Linked DNA regions of Homo sapiens. The protein of the gene in region 3 interacts with the protein of the main gene of each other region in a pairwise test. Each region holds a gene or a part of one and is shown on either strand. Other genes may lie near its edges. The genes, in order: THSD7A, RPRM and CD33.

Region 1 (3,749 bases), on a different chromosome or scaffold from region 3:
ACAAATTGTGTACTTTGACTTTAAATAAATTTCTGTTTAATCTCCTCACTAAATTTCTGGATAGCTGCAACTTCTTTAAAAATTCCAGATATCGATAGTGATGCAATTGTAGAGTAGACTGAGCTGTCTCTTCAGTAGTGGTGCAGAGATGGGCTGAAGCAGGAAAAGACACTCACTCCCTGAAACCTGTTTGCAACCCCATGACGAATACATACTTTCCCTTTCAACTACAACATTCTCTTAATGTTTGGCATGACCAAGTTATTCTTAAATTACCCCCTAGCTCTAAGCAACAGGAATAATCTTTTCCCATTTTATTCCTATGAACATGTGAAGTTTCAGGTCCCCTAAGGAATTCTCAATGTTTTTTTAATGCAGAGAGAAAGCGAACCCGCAGAAAAGGGGTTGGTAATTCCTCACTCCGTATTGTTTTCCTGCCTGTCACGGCCCCCGCCAGAAACTCCAAGCATTTTGCCAATGGGTAATGATGGGCAGTTAGTAGCTGCTTTTGTTGGGTGGTTGAAAAACAAAGCAAAACAATTCTCAAGGAAGGAAGAGAAAGTTTGAACCCAGACATCCTAAAAGTTGTACACTTTAAAAATCCTCCGACTCGCTAGTTAATAATTGAGTTTTCAGTCTTTCCCTGAAGGCTCACTGGAGCCCCATTTGCCTTTAATTGTTGGAACCGCCCTCACTTGGCTTGTTTCTGAGGTGTCCCACATATCACAAAGCTAAAGTTAACAAATTCAACTCTATATCCACAAATGTCATGACAGTGAGCATATTGCTTTGCCTAAAGAATAAAGACTGAGACTAAACTCTTTGCTTGTTCTTTGCTAGAAATCTGTTTGAGAAACTCCTAGTAGAATGAAAATCCAGGGGTTAAAAATAATGCACTTCATCATGGAAGTGCGCGTTGCCCTCATTACAGAGCTGCGAGAGAAATATTCCAGCTACTCACTGTTGCCTCTTAGTTGTTATGCTTTTCTTTCCTAATTGCATCGGACATGACCTATTTGCTTCCTAAGAAATCATACTTTTTACCTTAGGATACCAGCATAACCAAGCCATCCAAAAGCACCGGGGTCCCTACAGAAGCCCACCAGCTCCTTAATGTGGCCCCAGATGTGAAGATGGGGAAAGGGTAACTCCGTCCCACTTACCAGTCTTCCACAGATAGAGGGTGGGCGCCTCCGCCTCGCCCTGCGCCGCAGCCCTGCCGGCGCCCGGGCGTAGCAGCAGCAGCAGGAGCAGCGGCAGCGGCAGCGGCAGCGGCAGCAGCTGCAGGACGCCCCGGCGCGGCCCCGCAGCGCCCCGGCTCCCGGACGCCCAGCGCCTGGCTTGCAGCCCCATGCCGCCTGCAGCCACTCCAGGGTCCAGAGCCGTAGCACGCTCGGCAGGGAATTTTTCTCCGCTCTTGGAACGTCTTTTCAAAGAGTACAGAAAGCAAAGCTCTTTCCTGCTATTGTTCGCTTCAGATGAGAAGGAGGGAGAGCGCGTCTAACACCAGGGAACAATAGCGTCCGCGGTGGTGGCCGTGGCCGCTGCCGCCGCCGCCGCCGCCTCTGGCGGGGATGCTGCTGCCGCTGCCATTCCTCGCAGAATGGCAGGTCCCGGCGGCTCCGGAGGCAACTGTCCTCAGGGGGCCCCAGCTGACTGAGCAGGTCTGCTAGGTCTGGGAGGCAGCGCAGCCCCCGCCAGCTGGAGGGGGAGGAGGGGGGCGTGAGCCCAAAGGAGCAGAGGGGGCTGGAGGCAGAGGGAGGCGAGAGCGCGAGGGCGAGAAAGGGGGCGAGCAAAGGGGAGAGGGGCCAGCCAGGCGACACCCACCTCCGACATACCCGCCTAAAGAACTCCGGTGCACATGGTGCGATGAAATATGTTTGGAAGGATGCACCAATAAAAAGAATCATCACCCGGCAGATTTCAGAATGACAAATAACAGGCATTGATATTCACTGTCATCCAAGGAGTCAAATGCTAGATCTAGTGGCATGCTATTCTTAGTACGTATTTACACAAAGCATCAGTGTTTATTATCTATTTTTAAGCCATGGCTTCTGAATTACTTTGTGTGGGGAGCAGTATTTGAGATCAGGTGTGAAAACACGAGAGCAGAAATGTTGACTTGTCAAAATGCACTTAAACCCTTCTTTAAATGTTGTTTTTAACTTAATCTATTATCAATAAAAATATGAGCAATATTGATGCTCTGTGACAAATTAAATTGTCTTTTAATAGCCTTTAAAACTGAATTAGTGTTAATGAGTATTTGCAATGCTACCTAATTACATAAATACAATTGTACAAAAAAAAAACCCTTAAAATTAAAATTATATTTCAGGTATAGAGTTCTGTCCCTTCATCTACTTCTTTCCCTCAAAAATATGCTACTTCTAAGTATTCAGATAGTTGTGAGTCAAACTGAGTCAGTAATGCTGTCTGGATATCTTGGAATTAGTAAATTCTTCATTTAAAATTTCCCTGACACCGATTTTTCTTAACTCTTACTGTAGCAAAATGCCTGTCGCAATCTAAATAAGGAACCACATGTGTTTGCATCTTTTGTCCTTTGTGTTTTCACTTTCTTCTACCAGTAGTAATAGAAGAATGTGTGTGAAGTCGGATAATGCTTTCCCCTTTCTCCTTCTCCCTTTAGCTAATAATAATATATTTTATTATTAATTCATTTCACAGTAAAGCTAAAATAGTAGGCATTTAACCATTAAAAATTCAGCAAACGGAAAGCCAAAGAAAACTACTATCCCATCAGCAATTTTCAGCCAAATAAAATAAAATTTTAAAAGCAGGAAAACTACTTTTTATGAATTTACTCCAACATAGCTACCCTAGAGTTTAAGATGAGGAAGCTACTCTTTCTGAAAGAGGAAACCTTCCATAAGGCTCCCTTGGGACCCTTGTCATTTTGCAAAGCCTTCCAGACACAGCCCCTCTGCATGCATTAGATTAAAAGCGGGTTTGATCAAATAATTCCCAGGTCCTGCCTGTTTAAGTATTCTGACATCAGAGGAAATTAGCTACGTTGAAGGTTGCAAATTTGGTCTTTGTTTACTTTCCGCTCTGTTAGGCCTCTAAGAAGGAATTAAAAGCTCAGAGAGCCCGAGCGCTGTGAGTCTGTGATTAGGAGAGATAAGCTAGTGTGGCTTACTATTTCTTCACTCGTGAAAAACAGGCAACAATCAAAAGATTATAGGTTGATAAGGAATAAAAAGGAAGCCTGATCTTAACTAATGTATGGTTCCCTGAAGGATCACTTCTTTTGACAGTTACACCACAGAAGGAAATGGGACCTGCTATTGCTTCCTGGGTTCTGTCGTTTCAGGAAAATTTCCATGTCCACTCCACAAGGAATCATTTTCCCATCCTTTCTGCTTGTATTTCTCAGCTACTGTTAGTGCCCTAAACCTTGAAATCCTCTAACTCTGGCACAGGAAGTATTTCAAACTGGACATACTCTGCTAACAGCAGCCATTCTACGCATTCGTGGGAAGCGCCAATCAATTCACCAAGTGGGAATTCATTATATAACAGAGGACAGAGAGTCTGAGGAATTAAGTTAATGTGCAAGGTCATTTACCTAGCCCTTCAAAAAGCCATCCGACACTATACTTAATAGCTTATTGTCAAAAGAAATTTTAAGATTCTGACCTTTATATTTACCCATGGTGGTATAATAATAACTCAACTTGTCAAGAGTGTAAACATCATAGCTACAAATTCAAGCATTATAC
Region 2 (3,749 bases), on a different chromosome or scaffold from region 3:
GTTGCATTTATTAAGGAAATGTTAAATAAGAAAAAAACAAAAAGTCAAAACGGTGTCACGGATGTCAAGAGCACTTTTGTGGCGTAAACCGTGCAGTCACGAGCTACGAGTTCTATTCTGGGTCTTTGTCCCAGGGCCAGCAGGAACGCTAGACGCCTCCCAAAAGACCCAGTGGGAAATGCACTAAAAGAAACAACTCACCCCGTTCAAATTCGCAGGCTCCCCCTCCCCCCACCCCTTCTCCCACAATGACAAAACTGTAACTCCTCAGGCAGGCAAACAGGCCACTGGGGCAGAAAAAGACTTATCAAACATTTGTATTCAAGCAAACAAACACAAAACCTCTTAAAACGGCACGTTACAATCAAAGGTATTTATCGCCCCTCCCCTCCAGGGCAGGGGGGGAGCAGGAGAAGAGTGGGAGCGCACCCGGACACGGATTTGTGAGACCCCATGAGTCTGCTGCGTGGCTTTTAACAGGTCACTCTTCCGGTCACAAGGCGATCAGTGCCGCTGGGTCTCTCCCCTGCCCGCCCTCTCCACCTGCCCCCAGAGCTTGGCCCACCTGCGGGTGGAGAAGGGCCTTCGCACCGTCGGTCTCCCCGCATTCCAAGTAAGTAGCAGCTTCCAAAGTTCTGCGCCCTAATCGCCCTCTTCTTGCCACTTTCTGCTGAGTTCAGAGTCTGGGCGCTCTCCTCCGACTGCCAGGCATGAGGACTTTCAGAGGGCGAGGGAGAAACCGGTCGCTTCTTTCCGAAAGGCCGAAGTCGAGAGAAATAATTGACTCCGACAGGTTTGCTTCGCCCAGTCTCTGATAGTGAGGGGCACAGCCGGGCTAGCAAAGTGGGCAGGCGTGGGAGCGGTTGCCGCGGGGGCAGAGGGCGGGTCAGTAGGGCCCCACGACCACCGCCTCCACCTCCTTAGACGGCCTCCGGTCCTTCACGAGGAAGTTGATCATGCCCTCGGACTTGATGAGCAGATTGCAGCCGAGGAAGAAGATGCCGAAGACCACGGTGAGTGAGAGCACGCACATGACCGCGATCTGCACCACGCGCATTATGTACAGGCTACGCTCGTCCGGGCCTCCCTCCGCGAAGCCGTCGTCGGTCACCACGGACGCCTGGGTGCAGCAGCGCACGGCTCGCTCCAGCGCCTCGCTGCTGTTGGCCAGGAACAGGCCCGCCACGTCCGTCTGGTTGCCTAGGGCCGGATTCATCGCAGGAACGGGCGGGCGCCGCGAGCGGCGCGGGTCCGAGGGGTGGGAAGGCGGCGGCGCTGGAGGAACAGGTGCCGGGCTGAGCGCTCACTCGCAGACTAGCGCGTGCGAGGGCTCCTCGCTCTGCTTTCGAAAGTCCCTGGGCCGTGGGAGTTTCCCAGGAGCCTCTCCGACGCGCGCAGCAGCTAGGCTCTTCTAAAGCCGTCCGCTCCAGCCCTGGTGGTGCTCGTTCCCGGCGCTCGCTCGAGGGGGGGCTGTTGGAACTTGGCGGGGCTGGACCAGCCCGGCCGTGGGAGGTGCGGGCCGCGGCGGCTGCAGCGGCGGGGTGGCTGCGCTGAGCAAACAGCGGCCCCTTCCGGCCGCACCGCCGCGCTGCGCGCTGCTCTTGGGAGGTGGAGGAAGCAAAGGGGCGAACCTGGTCTTGCTTTTTATTGCTTGCTTCTTTTGCAAACTCCAAAGGCCAGGCAGAGGTCACTGTACTCTTCTAGCTTGATGGATGATTAAAGAGTTTGTCGGGGGAGGGTGCGGTCAGCTGAAAGTTTCAGAGGAACTGGGACACACGAGCTCTGCGTGTCCTTTGCCTGCTGCCCCCCTGACCTCTGGGCGAATGGAAAGTGGCGATGAATCGCAGGTGCCAGATGGTGCCGGCTGAGGCCACCCGCCCACTGCCTGTGCTTGACTCCGACTCGCCTGCGTTGGATTTCTAGTGGAGTGGAGGTGATCTGAGAATGTTTCTTACAAAGCAATGAATTTGGAAAGACAGAAAGGCATGGAAGAAGGAAGGAAGAAAGGAAGGAAGGAAAGAAAAAAGGAAGGGAGGGAGAAAGAAGAGCTCTACACCCAGCTTCCTTTACAAAAGCGATTGGGAGACAGAGCAAGGCAGGTTTTACCGTGAGGTTTGAGGCCAAGGAAAGAGGGTTAGAGGAAGGAGGAGTTCTTCTGTGGCCCTTGGGTGGAGGTAGTTGCCGGGAGCAGGGTCACCTCTCTGGTAAAGGAGGTGAACAGAGTGACCACTTGCTTGTAATTTTAATTGCAGATAAGTTTTTGGATGTGCTTCCAGCATTTTGTCCGTTGGCAGTAAATCAGTTGTTGAAGGGAATTGCTCATCAACATCCATCACCTAGAACGCTGGCCAAATACTGGGAGCCCTCCCCATTTTCCATAAGCTGATGTATTTCACCCTTAGTCATTTAAACTAAACACAGATGTTTTTATAGGCCTGATTGACGCTTCAGCCATTGTGATTTTGCTCTAGGTTCCAACGAAATTCTATAAACCTGTCAGATTAAGTTTCTTAACTCTGAAAGAATATTGCATGTTCCCGCTCCCCCTTTTCTGTTTTCTTTCCCCTCCCTCCTTTTCCCCATTACTCCCTGCCTTCCTCCCTCTTTCTTTCAGCTGTAACAGCTGGAAACCAGTAACTTGAGCTTCCAATAGAATACATTTACTTTCTATTAAATGTTCTCACCACAAAGAACTGATAAAAATTTGAGATAATGGGTACGCTAATTACTCTGATTTGATCATTCCACATGTATATGTGTATCAAAATATCACTTTGTACCTCATAAATATGTACAGTTGTCAATTAAAAATAAAATAAAACTGAAAAATAGTAGCTGTCTTGCCATTTTCAACTCTACTCTTAATTTCATTCTGTTTGCTTGGTAAATCCTCTTATTTCTGTTTCTTAAAACATCATTTATTCCATCTTCAGAGTGTTCCTTAAATGTTTTTGCACTGCTTCATGACTATCATAAAATAGAATGAAATGCCTTCTGGTTGAGTTTTCAATTTTTTGATATTTATGGTATATCAGCTGCAATAAGTTTGATTTTTTAAAATAGCTATTATTATTTTGAGGGGGATGTTTAACAGCTGAAAATTCAGGCTTGGGCTTCTACCACAATTCACTGGCTTATTGTTCTAGTTTCCCATAATTTAATTAGAATTGAAAAATACCTCACTCTCGGCAATTTCTTCTTTGAAGAAATTTATTAATAATTGATAAGTAAGAATTTACTTAAATCTCATCATACAATCAGTCTATCTTAGTTAATGTGGGTAGTCCTCAAGAATAATAAAACGTAATGTATACATGGAAAAAATTACAACAAATTTAAGGCAATATAAAGTCATCCTGAGATGAATGGTAGAGAAAAGTAATAGAAATTTAGAAAAATAAAAGGTCAGAGAACAGAGGCCCACCTCCAGGGATCAAGTTGTACAGAACTGTGTGTTCAGTAGAAGTTAGGTGTAAGCAAATGGAGAGCCCCTTCTTTATGTGACAAAAACCAAGAGTTAGTTTATAGTACATTTGTAAGATCCAATATGGAAGGATGCTAAAAGTGTTAGTTGAATCATTATCAGAATTTGAGTATATTTATTGCTAGGAACAGTATTGCTGTTTTCGTCAGGTCAGTGTTAAAATGATCAAACCTTGGAGTCAGGAGAGTTTTTATATTTAATCAAATCTTTGGGTGGGATCTTTTCTCTCAGGTTTAAGGACTAATTAGTCACAAAATTGTTGACA
Region 3 (3,749 bases):
CCTGGAAAGGAAGAATAAGTTCTGGTGTTCTATACCACTGTAGGATGACTATGCTTAACAATAATAGATAGCTTCAAATAGCTAGAAAGGGGATATTGAATGTTCCCAACAACAATGAAATAATAAATGTTCAAGATGATGGATATGCTATTACCCTGATCTGATTACTATACATTATTAGTATGGAAACATCACTATGCCATCCATAAATATGTACTATTATTACATATCAATTAAAAATAAAATACCCCAAGACATTCAGAGACAGGAGGGAGACAAAGAGCATTATTTGGATGGGCAAGGGGGAAGTTGCTAGTCATCCCCAAATATCCTTTTCCAAGGTGCCTGATGTCTACCCGTGTCTAACTGCAGGCCTTGCCTCTGAACATTTGACTCTGAAAGTCCAGATCTGACCAAACCTGACACAGACTCAATGTCAGTAACAGCCCCAGGCGGGGAGGCTCCTTCCTACCTGAGCCATCTCCTGGAAAGATACCAGTTGTTGGGTTCTGTGGAACATCTAGGAGAGGAAGAGAGGATTTCCTTCAGTTGGGGGTAGAGATGAGATAAGGGTAGGCATTTCCCCTTACTCCTGCCAGAAACCACAGAAATGCAGAAGGGACAGGGCTCATGTCCTTCTGGCTCCCGAACTCAGCCAGGCCTCCAGGACACTAAATGTCCCCAGCACCAGCCCATCCTGTCTCCCCTACACCCTCAGGGACCCCAGCATCCTGGCCCAGCACTTACAGGTGACGTTGAGCTGGATGGTTCTCTCCGTAGTCACACCAGCTCCAGCGAACTTCACCTGACAGGTCAGGTTGGTGCCGTGGTCCTGGGGCCGTGGGGTGATTATGAGCACCGAGGAGTGAGTAGTCCTGGGGCCCAGGGAGGTGGGGGCAGCTGACAACCAGGAGAAGATCGGGGGTGTTCCCTGCTCACAGGCCCAGGACACAGAGCAGGTCAGGTTTTTGGAGTGGCCGGGTTCTAGAGTGCCAGGGATGAGGATTTTGGGCCTGTGGGTCAAGTCTAGTGAGGAGAAAGAGGGGATGCAGAATCAGGAGGGAGGGTCCAGGTGAGGGCCTGAGAGAAGATCAACCTCTGGTCAAGCTCCCCCGCTAAGCACGACAGGCTTTACCCCTAAACCCCTCCCAGTACCAGGGTCCCATCCCAGCCCTGCCCTGCAGTACCCATGAACTTCCCTTGCGGCCACTTCTGAAGCCTGTGCCTCACCTGTCACATGCACAGAGAGCTGGGGAGATTTGTAACTGTATTTGGTACTTCCTCTCTCCATCCGAAAGAAGTATGAACCATTATCCCTCCTCCTGGCGTCTACGATGCTCAGGGAGCAGTTGTTCCTACTGGGATCCCCAAGGAGGCGGAATCTGCCCTGAGTCTCCTCCTGTACTTCTTGATCTAGCTTGTTTGTGGCCACTGGAGAGTCCCTGGATATAATGGCTCCTTCCCGGAACCAGTAACCATGAACTGGGGAGTTCTTGTCGTAGTAGGGTATGGGATGGAAGAAAGTGCAGGGCACGAGGACGCACAAACCCTCCTGTACCGTCACTGACTCCTGCACTTGCAGCCAGAAATTTGGATCCATAGCCAGGGCCCCTGTGGGGAAACGAGGGTCAGCTCGGCCCAGCCCGACAACCCCTCTCCCCACAGCCACTCACCTGCCCACAGCAGGGGCAGCAGTAGCAGCAGCGGCATGTCTGAGGAAGCAGCTTCCAGGGCTTCCTGTGTGAGCAGAAAAGAGGAAGGGAGTGGAGGGGAAGGACTACAGGGCCGGACAGGAAGCTGGGGAGGAGCAGGAGACCTCAGCCCTGCATGGAAGAGGAACCTCAGACCCACACATGCTCAGAGCTTGTCCCCTCCACACAGATTGACCCTCATGGGCCAGAGATGCCAGAGACCCGCCCAGAGATGGGAGGAGATGGAGCAGAATCTGAGTCTTGCCTTCCAGGAGCACCAGAGCCTGGATCAGTACCTTCAGGGCCATCTGAGACATGCGAACCCCATGTCTAAAGTCCTTCCACTCTGAGGTGCTTTTCTGTGCACAACTGTTTACACCAGGGCTGATCACTGCTGGCCTGGCCCGAGTCGCAGCCTCACCTAGATCCATGGGGTGTTTAGTCCAGCAGGATATAGGATTCTATAGGGTCCGTGTGAGTGTCTGGGGCAGAGAAACAAAGAAGAGTCCTAGGTAAAGTGAAGGTGGCAGCCATTCATTTATTCATTCATTCACTAAAGATATAGTGAGTGACAGAGCAGGAGCACCGTCATCTCGGAGAAACACTGCCTCTTTAAGTTCCAATTTCCTTTCTAGCCTCATGCATTTCAAGGAAATCACTTCTCTGCTAACTACAAGCAACCAGAAAGAGCAGACAGTGAAACACAGATAAGACAGCTCGGGCACAGAGGGAGGTAGGGGGAGAGTCTCTTGAGTTACTGCCAAACTTCACCCTCATACAATGGCCCTAGTAAAACAGTGGGCCTTAATAAGCAAATTCCTTTCCCTTCAGGTGCACTAAGATAGGGAAGCTAAAAGCAGACTCAGTGGGTATGCCTGTAGCTGCAGAAAGATGTATGGGTACAGACACACACCTCTCTCTCCCAGATAAGCACAACAAAGAGACTCAGAAGCAGTCCAAGTCTCTGATAAACTCTCCCACCCTAAATCCTTAAAAACTCTTAGTCTGTAAGAGAGTGTGCCTCTGACTTAACTCGGCCAGAAACTCCTCTCAGGTTTGTTTTCTCTAAAATCTGTCTTGACTGGTGAGCCACCATTCGTGTTTCTTTCCTCTTTCTTTAATTCTTACAGTGAGCCTTTGTGTATAGGTGGGGCTTGAGAAGAGATGCCACTGACCTGATTCCTGCCCTTAAGATACTCCCCATCCATAGCCTCATGTCCTCACCACACACACACATGCTGTCTGGCTTTAGAGCTGTGAAAAGTTGGGAATTTGCCATGTATCATGGTAGCATATTGGAAATTTTAAAAGAAATATGACTATAGAATTTTCCCCTGGCACCTAGTACACTGATTTGCACAGTGTCAATGACATCTCCAAAACAAGAACCATGCAGCATCTTCCTGTGAAACAAAAGGGAGAACACATGTTCTATGAACCAGTGCAGAAAAAACTTCTTTTCCATTCATGCTGCCATTTGGTTCAGTGTGGGCAGAAGCAAGTTTTTTTAGAGGCTCATCATATGGATCAACATTTTCTTTCATGTAAAAATCTGCTTCTCACAGTTAAATATGGCCCAAAGACATAATATTTCCAGACAACATGAGTGGAGTGTACAGAGAAAATTAAACTTTAGGTCCAGCTACATGGTTTTCCATATCACTCTGTGTAGTATGCATCCAGCAAACCGTTGATCCCTGGGACATATTAGTACTTGCCACCATACCTTTGTCAAATCTCTACACACAATAGTATCTAGATAACTCTTCATTCATCCTTACTAATAGAGAGGTAGCTGCATCCTCATTTGATATACAACAAATTAAGTCTCCAGTAAATAATATCTGTTGTAAGTTATTTAAATATTTAGCATGTGGCACGTAATAGAAAATTCAATACATTTAGTGCTTTTTTTTTTAAGACAGGGTCTTGCTTTGTTGCCCAGGCTGGAGTGCACCGGCCTGACCACAGTTCACTGCAGCCTTGACCTCCCAGACTCAAGTGACTCTCCCACGTCATCCTCTCTAGTAGCTGGGATCACAGGCTCATACTACCAGG

Evidence for each region.
Region 1: the proteins of CD33 (region 3) and THSD7A interact in binary tests that used the Homo sapiens proteins (3 or more experiments, as listed by UniProt).
Region 2: the proteins of CD33 (region 3) and RPRM interact in binary tests that used the Homo sapiens proteins (3 or more experiments, as listed by UniProt).

What each region holds. Positions count from the first base shown.
Region 1 is NC_000007.14:11,830,594-11,834,342, forward strand, and holds the start of THSD7A (thrombospondin type-1 domain-containing protein 7A precursor), read right to left. Parts: upstream 1,606-3,749; 5' UTR 1,354-1,605; coding exon 1,164-1,353; intron 1-1,163.
Region 2 is NC_000002.12:153,477,350-153,481,098, forward strand, and holds the start of RPRM (protein reprimo), read right to left. Parts: upstream 1,414-3,749; 5' UTR 1,217-1,413; coding exon 887-1,216; 3' UTR 1-886. UniProt on the Homo sapiens protein: May be involved in the regulation of p53-dependent G2 arrest of the cell cycle. Seems to induce cell cycle arrest by inhibiting CDK1 activity and nuclear translocation of the CDC2 cyclin B1 complex.
Region 3 is NC_000019.10:51,223,080-51,226,828, reverse strand, and holds the start of CD33 (myeloid cell surface antigen CD33 isoform 1 precursor), read right to left. Parts: upstream 1,750-3,749; 5' UTR 1,738-1,749; coding exon of another isoform or gene 1,711-1,737; coding exon 1,674-1,710; intron 1,612-1,673; coding exon 1,231-1,611; intron 1,027-1,230; coding exon 748-1,026; intron 521-747; coding exon 473-520; intron 1-472. UniProt on the Homo sapiens protein: Sialic-acid-binding immunoglobulin-like lectin (Siglec) that plays a role in mediating cell-cell interactions and in maintaining immune cells in a resting state.